Linked DNA regions of Homo sapiens. The protein of the gene in region 2 interacts with the protein of the main gene of each other region in a pairwise test. Each region holds a gene or a part of one and is shown on either strand. Other genes may lie near its edges.

What was found. The genes of interacting proteins can lie anywhere in the genome.
Region 1: the proteins of USP40 (region 2) and TRAPPC8 interact in a two-hybrid assay, tested with the Homo sapiens proteins (one study listed by BioGRID).
Region 3: the proteins of USP40 (region 2) and HINT1 interact in a two-hybrid assay, tested with the Homo sapiens proteins (one study listed by BioGRID).

Annotation. Positions count from the first base shown.
Region 1 is NC_000018.10:31,940,115-31,947,927, forward strand, and holds the start of TRAPPC8 (trafficking protein particle complex subunit 8), read right to left. Parts: upstream 3,015-7,813; 5' UTR 2,651-3,014; coding exon 2,494-2,650; intron 1-2,493. UniProt on the Homo sapiens protein: Plays a role in endoplasmic reticulum to Golgi apparatus trafficking at a very early stage. Maintains together with TBC1D14 the cycling pool of ATG9 required for initiation of autophagy. Involved in collagen secretion.
Region 2 is NC_000002.12:233,486,769-233,493,790, forward strand, and holds part of USP40 (ubiquitin carboxyl-terminal hydrolase 40), read right to left. Parts: intron 6,784-7,022; coding exon 6,657-6,783; intron 4,494-6,656; coding exon 4,399-4,493; intron 4,304-4,398; coding exon of another isoform or gene 4,264-4,303; intron 3,131-4,263; exon of another isoform or gene 2,894-3,130; intron 2,716-2,893; coding exon 2,597-2,715; intron 1,537-2,596; coding exon 1,471-1,536; intron 1,249-1,470; coding exon of another isoform or gene 996-1,248; exon of another isoform or gene 913-995; intron 1-912. UniProt on the Homo sapiens protein: May be catalytically inactive.
Region 3 is NC_000005.10:131,162,243-131,169,518, forward strand, and holds the start of HINT1 (adenosine 5'-monophosphoramidase HINT1), read right to left. Parts: upstream 3,015-7,276; 5' UTR 2,964-3,014; coding exon 2,853-2,963; exon of another isoform or gene 2,818-2,852; intron 435-2,817; coding exon 330-434; coding exon of another isoform or gene 309-329; exon of another isoform or gene 236-308; coding exon of another isoform or gene 140-235; exon of another isoform or gene 1-139. UniProt on the Homo sapiens protein: Exhibits adenosine 5'-monophosphoramidase activity, hydrolyzing purine nucleotide phosphoramidates with a single phosphate group such as adenosine 5'monophosphoramidate (AMP-NH2) to yield AMP and NH2.

The DNA of each region.
Region 1 (7,813 bases), on a different chromosome or scaffold from region 2:
TTTTCACATTGATTACACATTGAAATAGTAACATTTTGGAAATACTGAGTTAAATAAAATACAGTATTAAAACTAATTTCGGCCGGGCACGGTGGCTCACGCCTGTAATCCCAGCACTTTGGGAGGCGGAGGCGGGCGGACCACGAGGTCAGGAGTTCGAGACCAGCCTGGCCAACATGGTGAAACCCTGTCTCTACTAAAAATACAAAAATAAGCCGTGAGCGCCTGTAATCCCAGCTACTCGGGAGGCTGAGGCTGGAAAATCGCTTGAACCTGGGAGGCAGAGGTTGTAGTGAGCCAAGATCGCGCCACTGCACTCCCAGCCTGGGCAACAGGGCAAGACTCCATCTCCAAAAAACAAAAAACAAAAAAACTAATTTCACTTGTTTCTTTTTACTTTTTTAATGTGGCTACTAAAATTTTTTGTTGTTGTTGTTTGTTTGGTTGGTTTTGAGATGGAGTCTCACTGTGCCTCCCGGGTTCAAGTGATTCTCCTGCCTCAGCTTCTCGAGTAGCTGGGACTACAGGCGCCCACCACCACGCCCAGCTAATTTTTGTATTTTTAGTAGAAACGGGGTTTCACCATGTTGGCCAGGATGGTCTCGAACTCCTGACCTCGTGATCCACCCGCCTCGGCCTCCCAAAGAGCTGGGATTACAAGCGTGAGCCACCGCGCCCGGCCGAAAATTTTTTAATTATACCTGTGACTCACATTATATTTCAATTAGACAGCACTGCTCTATGGTGTAAATACATAATTCTAAATACTGTCAGGAGATAAGATGATTAAGAACACAATGTCTTGAGTCACACTGCCTGTTTCAAATCTTTCCCAGACGCAAAACTGTGAACAAATTAACACTTCTATGCTTCAAGGTCCTCAAATTTAAAATTGCAATAACAGGATTCAATGAGGACTAAAAAAGAAAAGTTACACAAAGCAAGTATCAGGTATTAGCATTATTATTATTTATTAAGAAAGAAGGAAAGAGTACACATATAAAAGTAAAACTAGCTCAAGTGTTTGTGTTTTTTTAGGAATTCAAGGCCGGGCGCGGTGGCTCACGCCCATAATCCCCGCACTTTGCGAGGCCGAGGCGGGCAGATCACCTGAGGTCGGGAGTTCGAGACCAACCTGACCAACATGGAGAAACCCTGTCTCTACTAAAAATACAAAAATTATCCGAGTATGGTGGCGCATGCCTGTAATCTCAGTTACTCAGAAGGCTGAGGCAGGAGAATCGCTTGAACCTGGGAGGCGGAGGTGGCGGTGGGCTGAGATCGCGCCACTGCACTCCAGTCTGGGCAACAAGAGCGAAACTCCATCTCAAAATAAATAAATAAATAAATAACAAAAAAATAAAAAACGTAGGGCATTTTGTTGCTCTTAAGTCCAACACTGAAGGAACTGAGACTGATGGCTACGATACAGGCTAAAGAAAATCCAAAAGTTTCCAAACTTTGTTTTTTTGGACAGCTCCCTCTCTCCGCTAAAAACAAAAGCTAATTTATAATGGAACTATTCTCCCAAAAAACATGGTAGCGCAAAAATGGTACAGCACTGATTTTTTTTGTGGATAAGTCATATTAAGCTAACAAACATCACAGTCGTTTGCCTGACACAGGCTTATTATGAAACCCTTCAGTTCTTACCGACCTTAACAAAAAAAACTTTACTTGGACTTTGTTGTTTGCAAGATATTGGCTAAAACATGCTTGAAGCTTTACCACATTATTTTCTCCTAATAAAAAAATCCAAAACTGGAGAAAACGGGTAGCTTCTTAACAAGACATTCATTAACAAGAGAAGACATTTCCATCCCTATAACTATAGATAACTCCAAATATCCAGGTTAAATTAACCACAACTTGGGCTTGCTTCCTCTTCCTTAGGGCAAAAAGCTGCTTCAAGTTTTATTCTTCTTATAATACTTTTAATTTTCTTGAGAGGTTAAGCAAAATACCGTATAGCTAAGAATATATTAGTAAAACAGCTACACGGTAGTTCAGACAGAGATGACCCTCAACGCTACAAGAATGTAATAACATCCACAACTACTTTCAAAGTCCAGTTTAACATCCAAGGGAGGATGACAGGTCTTCCTTACTCAGACCCTGTCGGTCTAAGAGGCAGCATTTTCCTACCTTAGCTGCTTTGCAAGTGCCTAATTCCTTCGCTATGGCCGTGGAGAACAGTCTCAATGCCGTTCTCGAAGACTCACGTTTATCTTTGCACCAATTACTTAACGACCTAGGTTGTCCGAGGAAGAAAGGAAGTGCCCAGAGAAACTGGAGCTTAGGACTGCGCTGTCTTGACAACCTCACGGTCCCTCCTCCAGCCGCCCCCGGAGCACCGCGGGGCCACAGCCCCAGACGCCACGGTACCGGCTCCAGGACGTAAACACTGCCCTTCTCTTCCCTGCCCGCCCGCAACTTCCTTCTCCCGACCACGGCTTTGCGGGAGCCCACTGGAAAAGGGAGGATACCACATACCCTCGGAAGTGAGGCGGGAGAAGGGCTTAAGCAGCTCCGCGAAGCTGAGGTGATTGAGACGAGTGAGCCGCTCGGCTTCGTCGCTGCACAGCGCAGCGACACAGGGGACGAAGGAGTCCGGGATTAGCTCCTGCACTGATTGTACACACTGGGCCATCGCCGCAGCACAGGCAGCGGCGGCGCCCGCCCTCCGGCCCACCCTGCGAGGTTATCCTGCGGCTGCAGCAGCTACCGCCGCCGCCCGCCGGCCTGGCCCGGCCGGGCGGGGCCCCGAACGCACTGGAGCCTAGAAACAAGAAGGAACAGACGCCGCCGCTTCGGTTTCTGGGGCACAATCCACTGACCCCCCCCTTCCCGTCACCGCCGCTTCTCAGCGCTCGTCCCCGCGTGCTCGCATTCCACCCCGATAGGTGGAGACGCCGACAGTCACCACTTAGTCCTTCGGACGGCAAAACCTTGGTCACTGCCCGGCCGGAACCGCCATGTTGAGGCCGAACCCTGACCAACCGGCAGTACTACTCCCAGCTGCCCCCGCGCGCGTCCCTCACGTGACTGTGTTAAAGGAGACGGTAGGGGCAAGGGAAGAGAGCTGAGGAGAGGGAAGTGAAAAACGACGGAGGCCGGTTGGGAGGCTGGAGCCGGAAGTGTTGTGACGGAAGCTCCCTGGGCGGGGCGGGGCTACAAGTGCGGTGGGCGGGGGCGGGGGCGGGGGCGGGGGCGGGGGGAGGTGCACAACTGTAGGCCGGGTTCTCAAGCTCGCCCTTAGCAGAGCAGAGCTGAGAGCCACCTACTAGCGGCAGGTGGAGCCTCGAGACGGGTGCTGTCGTGGTGATGGAGGCGCACGCTCGCTTCCCACGCAGTTTGGCCTTTTTGACGTCCCTGGCTGTTGTGGGCAACCGATTTGGTTGGTCGCGCTGCTTCCTACGCTCGCCGGCGGAGCAGCTAGTGGCACCTGCTCGGAGAGAGGGAGTGGATCTCTCGGAAGTGCTTGGGGTTTCGCTGAAGCGGACCTGAACAGACCATGTGTCCTTTAAATACAGCCATGCTTTTAGAAACGGACTGTCACTTTATGTGGACTCAACCATTGAACAGAATGTGTGCTTTTGTGAGTGCTGCAATTCCTTCAAGTGTAATTGCGCTACTGCATTTTTGTTGGTCGCAGGGAAGGGGTGTGCCTGCAAATGTCCGCGTGGTTCGTCCTCAGCCTCTTCCTTTTTACACTGTGCTAGGATGTTTACTTGCTTGTGGTGGAGGTAGGGGAAGCCAGTATTTGTGTACTGTGTACTGTCCTGAACCGGCTTTCATTCCTAACTTTTCAAAGATTGCTTTAAAGGGGGGGGGGCGCGGGTCAAATATTGTTTTAAAGGGGGGGACGGGGTGAGGTCAATGGTGTGTGCCTTGTAAGTAGAAATGAATGAAAGGAATTTTACTAATGTGTCACTCAATTGTTTGAGCTCCTTCTGTTTTGCATGCCAAAAATATAAGGCAAGGAAAAATGTATCATTCTATCATGATTTTATGGTGCTCTAATTAAAGGTGTCTTCCCCAACGTCAATGTCTCAAATTTTTCGACTTCTTGACACCCTCAGGTTTTCACTAAGGTAATAATTTATGACAAGTAAGATGTGTGCTTCTCATGTAAGTTGATAAATGGGAGGTAGGAAGGCACAGTAGGACATATTGATGACATGCCTTGGCTACAGATTAATTTATAAGAGAGTCCATCACTTTAGGAGATTTATTTGCCGAAGTTAAGTACGAGCCCAGGAAACAGGTCTATGCCTTTCTTCGAAGATGATTTTGAGTGCTCCAAATTTAAAGGGGAAAGGGCGGGATATTGAGAAGCACACCGTTTTCATGTAAGGGGGCGGTAGGAGAAAATAGTAATTCTTGCCTTTCTCTGGCTCAGTGAATCTGCATTTTTTACATAAGATGACATAAAATGGGCAGAGGAAGAATGTGGGAGTCTGCATTTTTCATAAGATAACAGACAAAATGGGGTAGGGGAACAATCAGATAGGCATTTGTGTCTGGCGGGCTGGGGTGGCCACCTGTAAAGATAAGCTATCAATTTGCATTGCCATGAAGTTTTAACAGCACACTAAGAATTTCCTTGTGGGCAAAATACGGGGGAGAGATGTAGCTTTTCATCTTGCAGCAATCTTATTTAGGAACCAAAAGGGGGAGGCAGATTTGCGTGACCAGTCCCAGCGTGACTTTTCCCTTTGGCTAAATCAGTTTGGGGTCCCAAAATTTAATTTCCTTTTGCAAGAGATAACATGTTACACACAATCCCTTTTCAATGCTTCTGATTCACTTCCTTACCCTTTATAATGTGAGAATCTCACATAATTTAGTGTGACTCAAGTTATAAGATACATTTTTTATAACAGGACTCCCAAATGCAAACATACTATTTATCTAGTACTCTAAAAAGTTTCAAAGGCCATTTATTTTTATGCTGAAAGTAAAAACAGCTGAATTAGACTCTTTGAAAAGGACTTTCAATGGTAATTTAGCCAAAATAGATTTTTCTGAGATATAATTCACATGCCATAATATTTACCCCTTCAGATGAGTGTACAATTCATTGGTTTTCAGTTTATTCCAAAAGTTGTGCAACCATTACTACTATCTAATTCCAGAACATGTTCATCCCAAAAAGAAGGCTTGTACAGGCTTTTATCATTCTGCACCCTGCCATGCCCTCCAACTCCTGGCAATCACTAATCTACTTTCTGTCTGTGTAGATTTACCTATTCTGGACATTTCATATAAGTGAAATTATACAATATGTGGCCTTTGTACACATATTACTTCACTCATCAATATATTTTAAAGGTTCATCCATGTTGTAACATGAATCATTACTTCATTCCTTTTTATGGCTGAGCCTAAATGGATTTTTGTCTTATGCATTGACTTTGCAGTTGTTGTTTTTTTTTTAATATATAGAGATGAGGGCTCACTGTATTGCCCAGGCTGGCCTCAAACTCTGGGCTCTGGTGATCCTTCTGCCTCAGCCTCCCAAAATGCTGGGATTGCAGGTGTGAGCCACCACACCCAGCCTGACTTCACAATCTAATACCACACCCATACACAGTGTTTCCAGTGAGTAACTTCACTGTGTAAATCTAATTCTTTCGTAGTCTATCCTGGTCTCTTCTTTCTTTTGACAAGGTACTGTTTGAACTGTGGAAACACCTTAAAGGAGATGATACTGAGGACTTAACTCTGACATTTTTCCCCTCCTCCCCGAATTCCTATCTAAGGGGCCTGTGGAGTCACACCCTACAAAACATAAAATGTTATCAAATGGGCCGGGCGCGGTGGCTCACGCCTGTAATCCCAGCACTTTGGGAGGCTGAGGTGGGTGGATCACGAGGTCAGGAGTTCGAGACCAGTCTGGCCAACATAGTGAAACCCCGTCTACCAAAAATACACAAAAAATTAGCTGGGCGTGGTGGTGTGTGCCTGTAATCCCAGCTCCTCAGGAGGCTGAGGCAGGAGAATCACATGAACCCAGGAGGTGGAGGTTGCAGTGAGCCAATATCGTGCCACTGCACTCCAGCCTGGGCAACAGAACGAGACTCCGTCTCAAAAAAAAGAAAAGTTATCAGATGGGTTTTATGTAAACTTATATAATATGGCTTACTTTCCAACTTGACTCTGGCATAACATCACATGACAGATAAAGGAAATCAAAGTATTTTACCTCAAAATATATTTCTTTGCCGTATTTTGAAATGCCCCTGCAAAGCTATTTTGTGGGGAGAGAGGTAATTGCATCTGTTAAGAATCTCTGTTGGCTGGGTGCAGTGGCTCACACCTGCAATCCCAGCACTTTGGGAGGCCGAGGCATGTGGATCACCTGAGGTCAGCCCGGCCAACATGGTGAAGCCCCGTCTCTACTAAAAATTTAGCCGGCCGTAGTGGTGGGCTCCTGTAATCCCAGCTACTCTGGAGGGTGAGGCGGGAGAATCACCTGAACCCAGGAGGCAGAGATTGCAGTGAGCCAAGATCGCACCATTGCACTCCAGCCTGGGCAAGAAGAGCAAAAAACTCCATCTAAAAAAAAAAAAAAAAAAAAAAAAAAAGAATCTCTATCAACATAATTAGATGTTTCCCCCTTCCAGGCCCTCCCAATTCTGAAGAGATTAGCTGAGAGTCTAGCCCCTTTTACAGGTCAGAATAGGAAACATTTGCCATCTATTGTCTCTAAGGATGGCCACCTAGGAGACTTCATCTACATAATAAGAACCTTAGTGTCCACCACCCCTTATCTTAATCCAGGCATTCCTTTCTGTTTATTCCAGGTCTTTAAATAGTAACTTCACTCTTTCAACCAATTGCCAATCAGGAAATCTTTTAATCCACCTATGACCTATAAGCCCTCCCCCAAACCCTCTTCAAGTTGTCCCACCTTCCCCAACCAAACCAATGTATACCCCAAATGTATTGATTGGTGTGTTATGTCTCCCTAAATTGTATTAAAACCAAGCTGTAACCCAACAGTCTTGGGCACATATTCTCAGTACCTCTTGGGACTATGCCTCAGGCCTTGGTCACTCATATTTTGTTTAGAATAAACCTCTTCAGGGCCGGGCACGGTGGCTCACACCTGTAATCCCAGCACTTTGGGAGGCCAAGGTGGGCGGATCACAAGGTCAGGAGTTCAAGACCAGCCTAGCCAACATAGTGAAACCCGGTCTGTACTAAAAATACCAAAATTTTAGCCAGGCATGGTGGCGCGTGCCTGTAGTCCCCTACTCAGGAGGCTGAGGTGGGAGAATCACTTGAACCCGGGAGGTGGGGGTTGCAGTGAGCCAAGATCACGCCATTGCACTCCAGTTTGGGCAACAGAGTGAGAGTTTGTCTAAAAAAAAAAAAAAAAAGAATAATCCTCTTTAAATGTTTTAAAGAGTTTGATACTTTTTGTCGACAATATTTACTGTGACCATAGTAGCAGACCTTTTAGTCAGGATTCTTTCAATGTCAAAACAAAGCAAATTAGGCCAGGCACACAGTGGCTCATGCCTGTAATCCCAGCACTTTTGGAGGCCGAGGCAGGCAAATCATCTGAGGTCAGGAGTTCGAGACCAGCCTGGCCAACATGGTGAAACCCGTCCCTACCAAAAATACAAAAATTGGCCAGGCATAGTGGCATGTACCTGTAGTCTAAGCTACTTGGGAGGCTGAGAATCGCTTGAACCTGGGAGGTGGAGGTTGCAGTGAGCCAAGATCACTCCCGCCTGGGCAATACAGCAAGACTCCATCTCAAAAACAAAAAAGGCAAATTAAATTTATACTAACGTCAGCA
Region 2 (7,022 bases):
GGAGTGCAGAGTGCAAGAGCAGAGGCTGCACAGCCCCATGTCCCCATGGGGGAGGGGGCTGCTGGCCAGGGAGTGAGGCCAAGGCCTGGAGCCCAGCACAGTGCGGCCAGAGGACAGAAAGGGCATCGGCACAGATGCTGAAGTTGCCAAGGAGGGGACAGAGGCTGCTGGAGAGAAACAGGAGGGACTAGAGGCCTCCTTGAGAGCAGGAGTGCCCTGGAAGTTGGTCAAGGACAGAAAAGCCCATGGAAGGGGCCTGAGGAGGCACACAGCTGCTCTTCAAAAGGGCAAAAGGCACTGTGCCTATCAAAACCTGACACAGCTTACAACCATTGTGACAAAGGGTCAAAATCATAAAGAGCTCACACAAATTCCAAGAGAGCTTTTCCTTTAGACTTCATTACAGAAGCAGTCAAAATACACGAAATAACTCAATCATGCACTCACAAAATACAGTTTGCAAAAATGCCTGAACTTATTAGTCATCAAAGCACTGGAGAATATGAGAACAAGATAATCATCTTTCATTTATCAATTTAGGAAATACCTAGACGATGAAATAGTCAATGCTGGTTTGTGGGTGAGGTAAAATAAATACTCATATTCTGGAACAACTTGCCTGAAGAAATATTTAACTATTTTAAGAGGTTTAAAATGTCCACACCATTTGATCCTGGAATTCCCCTCCAGGAAACTATTTCTGGTTGTACAACTTGTATTAAGAATGTGTTTTTATAAAAACACTAAAATTAAATACATGTTAGACATGGTTGAAAGATAACTTTCTCATATAACAAGCAGACCACAAGAAGGATACTCATATCATAATAGGTAGAGCAAATCTTAATAGTTCATGATATTTACAAAAGGACTTGTAAAATATTTTCCTACAGCGAAAAAAGAACAAGATGGTTTGATTGTAGACAATTTTGGGTGTATCTTTATTTAATAAATAATTATTGACTATGACATGGGCACAATTACTATTCTAGGTATTAAGGATATAGCAATGAATAAACCAAGTACTTATATTCTAGTAGTGGGAGACAGATACTAACAAATAAATCAGTAAGTACAGATATGTCAGGTGATACTAGGATGAAGAAAGTAGAATAAGGGGGCAGAGCGACGGGAGCAATGATGAATCCGTTGGATGGCAGACTGTCCGAACACACTGACAACAGCTGCGGGTGGGCCTCTTGCTGACACTTCAGGGCCATCATGGGGTCAATATGCACCTGGTGATTACTGAAAAATTAATTCTCCCTTACTGTTTTTATGGGAGAATAAGTCCCAAGTTTTAGATGCCCAGACATACAAACATATTTCTAGCACACACTCTGTTTCAAGTTGCTAGGCTACTTAGAAGCAGTGAAAAAAATGCTACACTATGAAGTTGTTAAAGCTTCAAAAGGCAAACGAGGTTAAGATACGTGTGTGTCACTTCAGATGCACAGGAGAATTTCTTACCCCAAGTTTTCGCCTTTCTGAAGGGGCTCTAAGCAGATCTCAATTCTCCGTCCTAGTTTATATTCCCTGATAATAAGTGAAACAAGATAATATTGAGTGACATAACATTTAATTTTCTTGAATTTTTTTTCCCCCAATTTTAAGCTTTTTTCTTAAGCAAAGAATTGTTTTCTGAGTACTTATAAGAACACCCAAACTTTTGGAAAAGGGGAAAAAATGAGAATCCTTGCTGCGGTGATTATTTAGATACTTGAGTCATTTCTTACTAAACATGTAGGTCTGGCTCTGGGAAGATGGCCAAACTGCCAAAGAAATTTCCCTCTGTTCAGCCGGGGTTAAGATTCTCATGCCAGTCACTTTGGGGTGGTAATCAGAACCGATTAAAAGCAGCCTTGGCCAGGCACAGTGGCTCACGCCAGTAACCCAGCACTTTGGGAGGCCAAGGTGGAAGGATTGCTTGAGGCTAGGAGTTCGCGACCAGACTGGGCAACATAGGGAGACCTCGTCAAAACAAAAAATTAGCCTGGTGTCGTGGCACATGCCTGAGGTCCCAGCTACACAGGAGGCTGAGGTGGGAGGATCACTTGAGCCCAGGAGGTTGAGGCTGTAGTTGAGCCATGATCACGCCACTGCACTCCAGCCTGGGCGACAGAGCCAGACCCTGTCTATTAAGAAAAGAAAGAAAAGGAAAGAAAGGAAAGAAAGAAAAGAAAGAAACGAGAAAGAAAGAAACAAAAAGCCTCAAGGCTGCTTTTTGCAAAGGAAATGACCCAAACCTGCTCTTTAAGTTCAAAGTTTCAGGAGGAGGATCAGCTGAATCCAACATTTCTGAGTGAGAAACAGCCACTCCTACTTTCCATCTCACTCCAAATGCTTTTAAGTTATATAATGTCACAGTCACTGGAGCACAGAAAAAATATACAACACTACATTTATACTTAACATGGAAAACTGAAGGCCTGCTGGAGTTTATGATGAAAAGTGTCACCCAAGTCACAAGCGTGGCATGACCAGGAATGGGCTTTGTTGTCACTCAGCTCAGAAGACTGATTCCTCCTCCATCCCTCACACCAGCCAGTGCGTCAGCAGCAGAGAGGGACAGTGTTGCGTCCAGCAAGGAACCTACCTGAGTGGCTGCCGGTCAGTTCGTAAAAGCCTGCCTGGGCGCTTCCTCTCCACCGTCCAGGCTCTGAGGTGGGCTGGGGACGGGACACCGAACTCCAGGAAAGGAGGCAAGGTCATGGCCTAGAAAAAGAAACAGACATTTCTCCAACGGTTTTAAAAAGCACTCTTCAAAACATACTGTTTTAGAAAAAAAAAATGAAGCACTACACAGTGGCATCTCAAGGAAAGAGTATCTCAAGTAATGATAACATCATTTTAAAAGTCACAGGAATCTCTCTCTCTCTTAAATAACACTAACCCTGAGCGGTCTTCATATTCCTCTGCACTGAAATCACCTTGAGAAAGAAGTGAGTTCCCTCTCTCTAAATCTGAGTCAAAAGCTTCTTTTTAATCATCATGTTTAAAAAATGAAACTTTGGAATTAACTTCCATGGGAGTAGAATTCACCAGGGCAGAGCCCGCTCTAACAGTACAACAAGGGACACAACAGCAGCCTTCTTCCGTGCCCGCGCAATCCTCCACCAGTGTCTGCTCTGCCGATGAATCAGCTTTTGATTCTGAAGTATTTCAAAATCTTTGGCTGCAATCAGTAGGCCCAAACTGCTTGTTCTAATTCTGAAGGGATCACTTTAAGCCCCTACTGATATACTTAGGTTGGAGCCTCTAAAATTACCAATATTCATCCATTTTTTGACCTAAAAACAGCAATTTTATATCTTTCAACTTAATATGAGAAAAAAAAAGTATTTTCCCATTTGTTCTCATGAGAATAAGGCTGTCTGCTTTTTCTTTTCTCCTTTTTTTTTTTTTTTTTTTTTGAGACGGAGTCTCACTCTGTCACCCAGCCTGAAGTGCAGTGGCGCAATCTCAGCTCATTGCAACCTCCCTGTCCTGGGTTCAAGTGATTCTCCTGCCTCAGCCTCCGAGTAGCTGGGATTACAGGTGCCTGCCACCGTGCCAGGTGAATTTTTTTTTTTTTTGTACTTTTAGCAGAGACAGGGTTTTACCATGTTGGCCAGGTTGGTCCCAAACTCCTGACCTCAAGTGATCCGCCTGCCTCAGACTCCTAAAGTGCTGGGATTATAGGCATGAGCCACCACACCCAGCCAACATATGCTTTTTCTTGAGGAAGGGTATTTCATATACTGAGGGCGCACAAAAGCCAAACATCAACAACCACTAGTCATATATAGGCCCCACATTTTCTCCTCTAAGAGAAGAAAGGAATGCTCATTTCAGTCCAACAGTAGGCGGATGCTGCTTCAACACTGCATTGTGCTTAATCCAGCCCTTCCATTTGGATAAAACCCTCCTTCTCTGTGAACGTTAATGCATAAGAAACAACACAATACCTAGAATATCTAGTTTAGCATCCTAACATAAAAGCTGGAGTTCTAACCTCCTGGAAAACTGGTAACACAGCTTTTCATAACAACATTTAACATATGGGTCACAATGGTACACAAACAATGTAAATAAAGGGATAAAGTGAATGCTTTACAAATGTTCCAAGAAACCATGTTTCCCTAAAAAAATAAAAATGAACAAAAGCCGCAAGTCACTGAGGATAGATTGAAACAAAAGCACAGCATGCCTGTCAGAGGAGGGACCAGTGAGGCCACGAGGAGCCGTCTGCACCATGGGCGTGTATTGCCTGCGGGTACTTACCACTGAACATGGCATATGACAAATGCCATATCAGAACAGACTGTAATTGAGGGAAAAGGAGATAGAAGAATATATTAATATCTCACTGGAAGAAGCCACATTACCACTAAGTTATGGTGCAGGAAGAAGTCTGACCTGAGACTTCAGCTCCGCCAGCGTGGCATCTTCTGAGATCTCTATGTCTCCCAAGTAGAGGAGAGAAACTTGCGCAGGCTCGTTCCCAGAAGCACCTTCCAAAGGACAGAGCGGGATGTTTACAAGGAACTTGAAACTTATTTTGTGTTTCTGAAATACATTGCCATGTTTTGATATTGTAAATAGGTTATTAAAATTCCACTCAAGAGCCTCTGCATCCAAGTCTTATGAGGAGGCCCTGTCTGGCAGGTAAGCAGGCAGGGACATGTTGTCGGCAGACTCCCAAGAGGTCTGTGACACTTATGCCCCTACCTTGAATGTACTTTTCCACATTCTCTCCTTCCTCAAAGAGGACTTTTTGGGTAGGATATGCTGGCTGCATTCTGTATGTTAGCTTCCTGTTTCCTCATCATAACACTCATCCCAACCTGTTCCTCGTGTGTGTGTGTGTGTGTGTGTGTGTGTGTGTCTGTCTGTCTGTGTGCAGGCGTTTAATCTGCCTCCTCAAAACAACAGAATTTTCAAGAGGAGGCAGGCCATCTATCTTGTCTCCCCAGTTCCTGGTACAATGGGTGCCACATAGTAAATGCCCAATAAATGTTTATTTATAAGGAAATCTTGACAATAAGAAGGCCTTTCCAAGTTTGTTTAAAAAAAGGGAAAAACACAATGCTTTCTCATCAAAAACAATATAAAAGCTGGCAACTAAATTTAGACTGTCTTCACTTATTTTTGCCTTAACTGTCTTTACTGCTGAGCATGCCACTAATGCATAGCAAGAAATTACAGAGAGATTAGAAGTCAACTAAGTGCATGAGAAGTTCCTCTTGTGTCTTAAGGAAATTACAGGCTGACACTACCGGAAAGATAATTTTAGGAAATTCTAAAGAATGAAATATATAATCACCTGCTACATAATGATTTGGTCAAAGACCACACATGTGATGTGATCCTATAAGATTATAATACTGTATTTTCACTGTACCTTTTTCTGTTTAGATACACAAACACCTGCCACTGTGTTATGATTCGCCTTCAGTATTCAATACAGTAAGCTGCTGTACAGGTCTGTAGCCTATGAGCAAGAGGCTACACCACATAGCCTAGGTGTGTAGGAGGCTCTACCATCTAGGTTTGTGTAAATCACTCTACCGTGTTCACATAATGATGAAATCATCTGACGATGCATTTCTCAAAACATATTCATGTTGTTAAGTGACACATGAGTGCATTTCCCATGTGTTGTGTACAGATGTATTACCAAAAAAAGAACCTTTTATTTACTTTTCACGTAGAAACATACTGATTAAACATGCTTTTACAATCTATATCCAATTCTATATGTAACTAGAATTCTATCACCAAGGCATTTTTAGCATTAGTTAACATGAACTACTGTAACCCAACTAAAAAGTAACTTTATGCCAATTTTATAGCTCATTCAACATTACTCTCTCTATATAATCCTAACTTCAAAGAATAAGGAGATAAGAATTTGACTCATTTATATTAATTTTATTACTGAGGCTGAAAAGATTAAAAAGAAATATAAGTAATATACTTCAAGGCACTAGAAAAACTAAATAAGTAAAGCCTGATAAAAAGAAAAACATAGCTAAAGAGTTGGGCCTATTAAAAATATACTCGCTCCATTTCTTTATAATGAAGTGGAACTCCTCTTTGTACAAGGGCAACAGAACTCACTGATAGTGACTTCTGCCCATCGTGATGTGTGCGGCTGAGTGCTGAGTAAGACAACATGCTTGTACTTGTCTATGTTCCTTCTCAGAAGTCAGTGAGATGATATCAAATGCCCTAGAAGCAGTTCCTGAGGGTTTTGAGGCAGAAAGATTGGAAGACATGTAGGATGTGGACTCCTGGTCTCTGCCCCTGTGGGCTAAAATGACATCATTAGAATTGGATGAAGTCTCAATATTCTGGTACGTGGTGATAAATGGGGCCCCTGTTGCCCTGAGGATCTTGAGAGATGATACATAAAAGTCTTTGGAAAGTGTAATATATTGATATAATAATAAACAACAAGATATATAGTGCTTTACAGAGGTTACAGAGCACGTACAGAAATGGCACAGTGTTATTATTATGTGATGTCTGGAATGACTTATGAAATTAATAGGTCTTGATTTTCAAGATCTTACGTTTTAAAAATAAATATATCAATTGACTCTCAGAGCACAGGCAGTCAATTTACTTCTCTTTATGATGCACTGGCTGCTGAAATCCCATTCTGTTCTCACCTTGGCTGGAAGTGGCTCTCCAAACTCTGCCCCAAGACGAAGTACAGTTGGTCTGGTCCTGATGACTCTCCCAGTGTCCTGAGGGACCCTGAAGCTGGTACCACCAGATGGGCACCTTCAGGAAACCCTGAAGAATGGAGCATGTTTAACTGCTGTGATTACAAAGATTAAGTGAAACTCTACTTTTACTTCCATAGAAAGAAACACCTTGATGACCTAAGATGTTCTTGAACTTATCATTTTTCCTTTTAGATTTATTAACTGTCATAAATTATACTTGTTTTTACAATCAAAAATTTAAAATCATAAAAATCAGACTTTGGGGTGACTGGACTAAATATCCCTTGCTTAAAGGTATCTTAGTAG
Region 3 (7,276 bases), on a different chromosome or scaffold from region 2:
AACCAGGGAGGTGGAGCTTGCAGTGAGCCGAGTGCCACTGCACTGCAGCCTGGGCGACAGAGCAAGACTCTGTCTCAAAAAAAAAAAAAAAAGGTAATAGCAAGTGTTGATAAGGATACGGAGAAGCTGGAACGCTCATTCATTGCTGGTGGGATACAAAATGATGCAGTAACTTTGGAAAACAGCTGGGCAGTTGAAGTCCTAATGGTTTTTCTGGTTTTTCCTTAGTAATGACCTTAGGAAGATGAAAATGTGACAGCACTTTAAGGACAAAATTAATCTCACAATTTAAAAAGCAAGAAAATAAATCATGTTAGAAATGTACTTACACTTTCATCATCATCTTCTGCCACAGAAATCTGGGATATATGTTTCTTGGGTATCACCAGAAAATGTGTTGGTGCTTGAGGGGAAATGTCATGGAAAGCAAGGCACTAGGGAAAAGAGAAATAAATAAATAAATCAAACTTTTAGTATATTGGTAGGATAAAACTTATTTCAACAAGTATTTACTGAGCAGTAACTACATGGAGGGCACTAGATGCTAAGAAAACAGAAGTGTACACATTACGAATGGTGCCGTGGTCCTTTCCATGGAAGTCTTTTTTTTTTTGAGATGGAATCTCACTCTGTCACCCAGGCTGTAGTGCAATGGCATGATCTCAGCTCACTGCAACCTCCGCCTCCTGGGTTCAAGTGATTCTCTTGCCTCGGCCTCCCAAGTAGCTGGGATTACAGGCACGTGCCATCATGCCCAGCTAATTTTTGTGTTTTTGTAGAGACGGGGTTTCACCATGTTGTCCAGGCTGGTCTCGAACTCCTGACCTCAGGTGATCCACCTGCCTCGGCCTCCCAGAGTGCTGGGATTACAGGCGTGAGCTACTGCACCCGGACTCCATGGAAGTCTTATGGGAAGACCAACTTTAAAAGTATAATCACCAAAGGTCATACATGTTACAAAGGAAAAATATGAATGATCATTACAGGAAAAGCCTGATTTAGATTAAGTGTTTAAGAACAACTCTGAGGCAGTGACATTTAAACTGGGAGCCAATGAATGCATAAAAATTGGCCATGCTAATCCTTGCCTGCCTCTCCAGATCTCCTGCAGGTCTTCACATGGAACTGGCCTTCTGAGCTCTCTGCCCTCAGAGCTTTTTCAATGATCCTCTCCCCCTCCAAACCCCAACTTCCGTCTAATTTAAACTGCTAGTCATTCCGCCATTCCATTCCCAGCACATACATGATTTCTGGGAGAAAAAAGAAAAAACAGAAAAAAACCTCTGATTGCCCTCCCCGTCCCATTACTCCCAGGTCAGAGTCCTAGTTGTGCAATTTCCTGGTTTTTTTTTTTTCTTTATGATAGCAATCAGTTTTGTAACTACATATTTGTCTGATACTTGATTAATATCTATTCTCACTTTACTCAACTATTTAAGAAATATACCTATCCTTTTGTGTAAAGCTGAAGAGTATATATATGATATTCTTTAGCATTTAGACTAATTATTTAAAACAGTGTCTGTAAATACACATATGACATGAATATTTTCGAATCTCTTGCTCACTGCTGAAGTGAAAGCTGTTTTAATAAAACCCATCCACACTTATTTGTCTCAGGAGTAATTCTACTGGGTACTCCCTACAAAATGCTGATTCATTTAGAATGCTTCCTGCCGTTCTACAGTTGGACTTCGGTGGTTCAAATGTAAATTTTTCAAGAACCATTTCTCAAAGGCAACTGCGAACTTTAAAAAGAAATATTTTTTCTAAAACCAAAGAATTTCCCCTGAGTAGAGACAAAGTATTTTTTTTTTTAATTTACCTAGAGGAACCTAATTAAATTTTTGATAACGTTTTGAATCTAACCGACATTAGTAGAATAAATGTTTTTCTTAGATTTTATATTTCCTAAATTTAACAAAACTGTTTACAAAATTTGTTCTATCTAAATCAGCCAATCTGCCCAGCTTTATCTGAGATCCAATCCCAAAAATACAACTGGCCACTAAATAATTTACACAAGATATCTCAAAGTCACATCAACTGGGATTTCACCTACAAGAAGTCAACAAAAACTACAGTCTTAGTCTCTTGGCATAAAATTACTTCCTGTTGAATACAAAAAGAATCATTCAGCTGTTTGTAAGTCCAAAATGTTCAGCGGGAGAGGTCAACGGAAAGCAAATCCCAGACGCGGGCCCACTTCTTATCTCAGGAGATCGCCTCGCTAGCCCAGGGTAGGCCTTGGGGTGGAGATAGGGATAGGGGTAGGGGTGAGGGTGGCAAGCCGCACCCCGCGGAGGAAGCCGGCAGGCCCAGACGGCCCGCGCACCTCCCAGCGCCCCTGGGGCCCTCGAGCACAATGCCTTGCTGAGCAGCGCCCAGGAACGCCGGGCCCTGGCAGGCCGGCTGTGCGCGGGAGATCGCGGAGATTGGGCCTGAGTCAGGGCGCGATCGGGTTTCTCTCTGTCAGGCAGAGCGCTGGCGAGATTTCGAGATTCCTGATACAGGCAAGGTCCGAGGCAGCCGGGGAACCGGCGGGCTTCCACGCGGGGGCCCCAGTGCGCCCCGACACGCGCCCAGGCCCCGCGGTGCGGCACTCAGGGCGCCCGGCGGCCTGGCCCGCGCCCGGGGCAGATAACGAGTAACCGGAGCGCCGGCACGCGCCGGCAGGCCGCCTCGGAGTGCCCGGGCCCTGTCCGCTGGCTGGGGGCCCGCTGGACCAGGGCAGCCAGGTCCCCTCCCGTCGCCGCTACACTCGCGACCCCTCCTCTCCCTCCGCGAGAAACCCGAGGATCCGCGGACGATACCCACCTCAGCAGGCGAGAGAGGTGGTGCCCAGTACCTACCCGGTCATCCTCAAAAATGATTTTGGCTGGTATTTCCTTGCGGATGATCTTCCCAAAGATCGTGTCGCCACCAGGCCGAGCGACCTGAGCCTTGGCAATCTCATCTGCCATCTCGGCCTCTCTCCCGCGCGGCGGCCAGAGGAGAGGCTCGGAAGAAGGGAGGAACCCGCAGAGCGTGCGGCGCGAGAGGGCGCAGCCAAGCCTGCGCAGGTGCCCCGGCTCTGGCGCCCCACCTAATCTTGCGCGTGCGCACTGGCGACCTGGGCTGCGAGTGCGGCCAGCGCGCTAGAGCGCCTCAGGGACCTCCGGCTTGGGGAAGTTCCTGGTCTTGAGCTCCAAGGAGATTCCTAAGTCGTTTTTCTATCCTCCTTTCTTGTCTCCTGGGGAATGCAGTTACTGGTATAAACCCTTCGTCTGCCTATGGATGCTTGTAGGGAAAGTTGGATACTGTAACTGACAAGATTTGATAATTTAAGTGGTGCTGGCTGCAACTTAGCACTTAGATTATTTAAGGTCTTGCTGCTGCAGCAGATTTTAAGTCCTCTCTTCAACAGAGTTTTTTTCTCTCTCTACCAGTGGTTCTCAATCTTGACTACACATTAAGATCACTTGGGGAGCTTTTAAAAATCCCCGTGAACCTGGCTGCAGCCCAGATCCATTAAATAAGAATCTTTGGAGATGAGCCCCAGGCATCAGTAGTTTGTAAACCTCCCTAGACTGCTCTGCAAAGAATTTTTCCCAGCAGCAATCAACATAATGTATTAATAAAATGACCCACTTTAAAAAAAAAAACCTTCCTTAATCCCACATCCCCCTCCGTATCTTTGCTCGTTTTATAAAGAAGTTTTCTACATACCATGTCTGCTTTCTTATCTTTCATTTTTGAGTCCATTTCCCTCTTGTCAAGGTCACTAAGGACATCCATTTATAAAATCCTATAGACAATTACAGTTATCATACCAGACCTCTAAGTGTACGTATTAAGAAAAAGTATACCTCCTCAATGCCTTTTTTTTTTTTAGATAGATTCTTGCTCTGTCGCCCAGGCTCGACTGCAGTGGCACAATCTCGGCTCATTGCAACCTCTGCCTCCCGAGTTCGAGTGATTCTCATGCCTCAGCCTCCCAAGTAGCTAGGACTACAGGCGCGCACCACCACACCTGGCTAATTTTTGTATTTTTAGTAGAGACAGGGTTTCCCCATGCTGGCCAGGCTGTTCTCAAACTTCTGACCTCAGGTGTTCCACCCGCCTCAGCCTCCCAAAGTGCTGGGATTACAGATGTGAGCTCAGCTGCCTTTTATGATTACATTACTACCCTTGTCTTGGCAAAATTATTGAATGTGGTTGCCTTTAATCTCAAAAGTGTCCATTTGGTACTTTTGCTATCAAAGACATTACTGGGACAATTCGTAAAATCTAAATAATGCCTATAAATTAGATAATAGTTTTGAAGTCATGTTAATTTCCTTTCATAACCACAGAAAAATTGTCAAAATCAGTTGATCTGGGGTGGGGCCCTACAAGTTAGGTTTCTAACTTTCCAGGTGATACAGTTGCTGCTGGCCCGGGAACCATACTTTAAGAACTACTGATACAAGGGAATGTCTTTGTAGGAAAAACCCACTGAAGTATTTAAGGCTATGGGTATCATGTCCGCAACTTACTTTCAAATAGTTCAGAGAAAAAGTGTCTGTCTATAGGTAATTAGAGAAATAGAAAAGGATAAAGCAATTACAATAAAATGTTAACATTTGGAGAATCTGACTGAAAGGCATATGCAAATTCTATGTATTATTCTTGCAACTTTTATGTGTCTGAAATTGTCAAAATAAAAAAATGTGTGCTGGTTTGGATAATAAATAACATGGTCAGCTTTCATTCCATCTGAAGGCTTTACCATCTATAGAGTAGTGACTCTCAAGTATTTGTCTCTTGACCTACCTCTTCCCTTAATTCCAGACTGGTCTGTGACATACATTACAGCCTATTGACCACCTCCACTTAGATGGCTACCAGGCACTGCAATTTTATTTTGACTCCCTCCACAACAAACAAACCAAAACCTCCTTTTGCAGGATTCTGTATCTGCTGTACCACCATTCACCCAGTCACTCCAGCCAAAAAGCCTTGAAATCATCCTTAAACCTTCTCTCTGTACTTTCAACACACATCACCAAGGATCTAATCACTTATCTCCTCTATCTCCACTACTCTAATCCAAGCTACTAACATCTCTTTCCTGGAGTACTTTGAAAGGCTCCTAGTTGGATAACCTATCTGCTTCCATTGTAGTTAATTTGCCACACAGCACCCAAAATGATCTTTATAAAATATAAATCATAATGTCACTCTCCTGCTGGTAATATGCTAGTGTATAACATCACAGAATAAAATCCAACATCCTTACCTTGGCTTATAGGGCCCTGTGTGATCAGGCCCATTGCTGCTGCTTCTACCTCATTTCTTTCCATTTCAACCTTATTGACTGGCATCACGCAAACTCAGTGTGCTAGGCAGAAGATGCCCATGTCCTAATCCCTGGAGCCTGTGAATATGTTACTTTACATGGTAAGTGGGATTTTGTAGATGTGATTAAGTTAAGGATCTTGGAATAGGGAGGTTCCTGCATTATCTAGGTGGGCCCAAAGTAATCACAACAGCCCTTGTAAGTGAAAGAGAGACACAGAAGAGTGAGAGTAAGAGAAGGAGATGTGACCACAGAGGCAGAGGTGAGAGTCTGAGATTTGAAAATGCTCGGCCGGGTGTGGTGACTCACGACTGTAATCCCAGCACTTTGGGAGGCCGAGGTGGGCTATCATGAGGTCAGGCGTTTGAGACCAGCCTGGCCAACATGGTGAAACCCTGTCTCTACTAAAAATACCAAAAATAGTTGGGCATGGTGGCAGGAGCCTGTAATCCCAGCTACTCGGGAGGCTGAGGCAGGAGAATCGTTTGAACCTGTGAGGCGGAGGTTGCAGTGAGCCGAGATCATGCCATTGCAGCCTTGGCAACAGGGTAAGACTCTGTCTCGAAAAAAAAAAAAAAGCTCCATTATTGGCTTTGAAAATGGAAGGAGTTGGGCCAGGTGCGGTGGCTCACGCCTGTAATCCCAGCACTTTGGGAGGCCAAGGCAGGCGGATCACGAGGTCAGGAGATTGAGACCATCCTGGCTAACATGGTCAAACCCCGTCTTTACTAAAAATATAAAAAATTCGCTGGGCGTGGTGGCAGGCGCCTGTAGTCCCAGATAATCAGGAGGCCGAGGCAGGAGAACGGCGTGAACACGGGAGGCGGAGCTTGCAGTGAGCTGAGATCAGGGAGGCGGAGCTTGCAGTGAGCTGAGATCATGCCACTGCACTCCAGCCTGGGCGACAGTAGGAGACTCCTTCTCAAAAAAAAAAAAAAAAAAAAAAAAAAAAGGAAAAGAAAATGGAAGGAGCCAAAAACAGGTAGCATTTTGTAAGTCAGAAGTCCAAATTGAGTTTCACTGAGCTAAAATCAAGTGTTGGCAAGGGTGCATTCCTTCTGGATGCTCTAGGGAAGAAATCATTTCCTCACCGTTTCCAATTTCTAGAGGAGGCTTGCTTGGTTTGTGGCCCCTTCCTCCATCTTCCTCCATCTTCAAAGCCAGCAGCAGAACATCTTCAAACTTCTCCCTGACTCTGCTTCCTTCTTTCACTTATAAGGATCCTTGTGATTACACTGAGTCCAGCACACAATCCAGGATAATCTTCCCATCTCAAAATACTTAATTTAATGACATCTTCAAAGCCTCTTGTCATATATAACATAGTCAGAGGTTCCGGAATCTCAACAGTTATCTTCTGGAGGCCATTATTCTGCCTACTACATAGCTCTGTGAACTTACATGATGAACATGCTGGAATTTCCTGTTCAGTTCTGCGACTTATACTTTGAGATGCAAACTTTAAAAAGACAATGAAATTTCAGAACCTTCCAAATTTATTAAGCCAAGGGGGCAAAGTTAAGCCTTGAAAACTGAGTCATGTAATACAGCTGTTTTTCTTCTCTGGTGCATGACTATTGTTGCTTCCCGACCTTTGTGTTGAGATGTTATACATTAATCAGACTCCCTATTCTTCGTTTCAAACCTGGACTACATAATATTAGAGCTGTAGACCCTTGTGATTGTTACTTTTTTACGATAGAATATTAAGCAACCACCTTAGAGTGTAATCAATACTAGCCAATCAGATCTTAAATCTGGATGTTATCCATTGTTTGGAAAATGTTGTAATTCTGTTTGGCATCTCCATTTTGTCTTATATAAACCATCTTCAATTTTCCTTACGCTGGAAGCACTGATCAGCATTCTTTGGTGTCTACATGTTCCCATATGACTGCCCTTACACTTTACAGTTGAATAAACCTTTTTAACTGGATCCTTAGCCTTTTGATTATT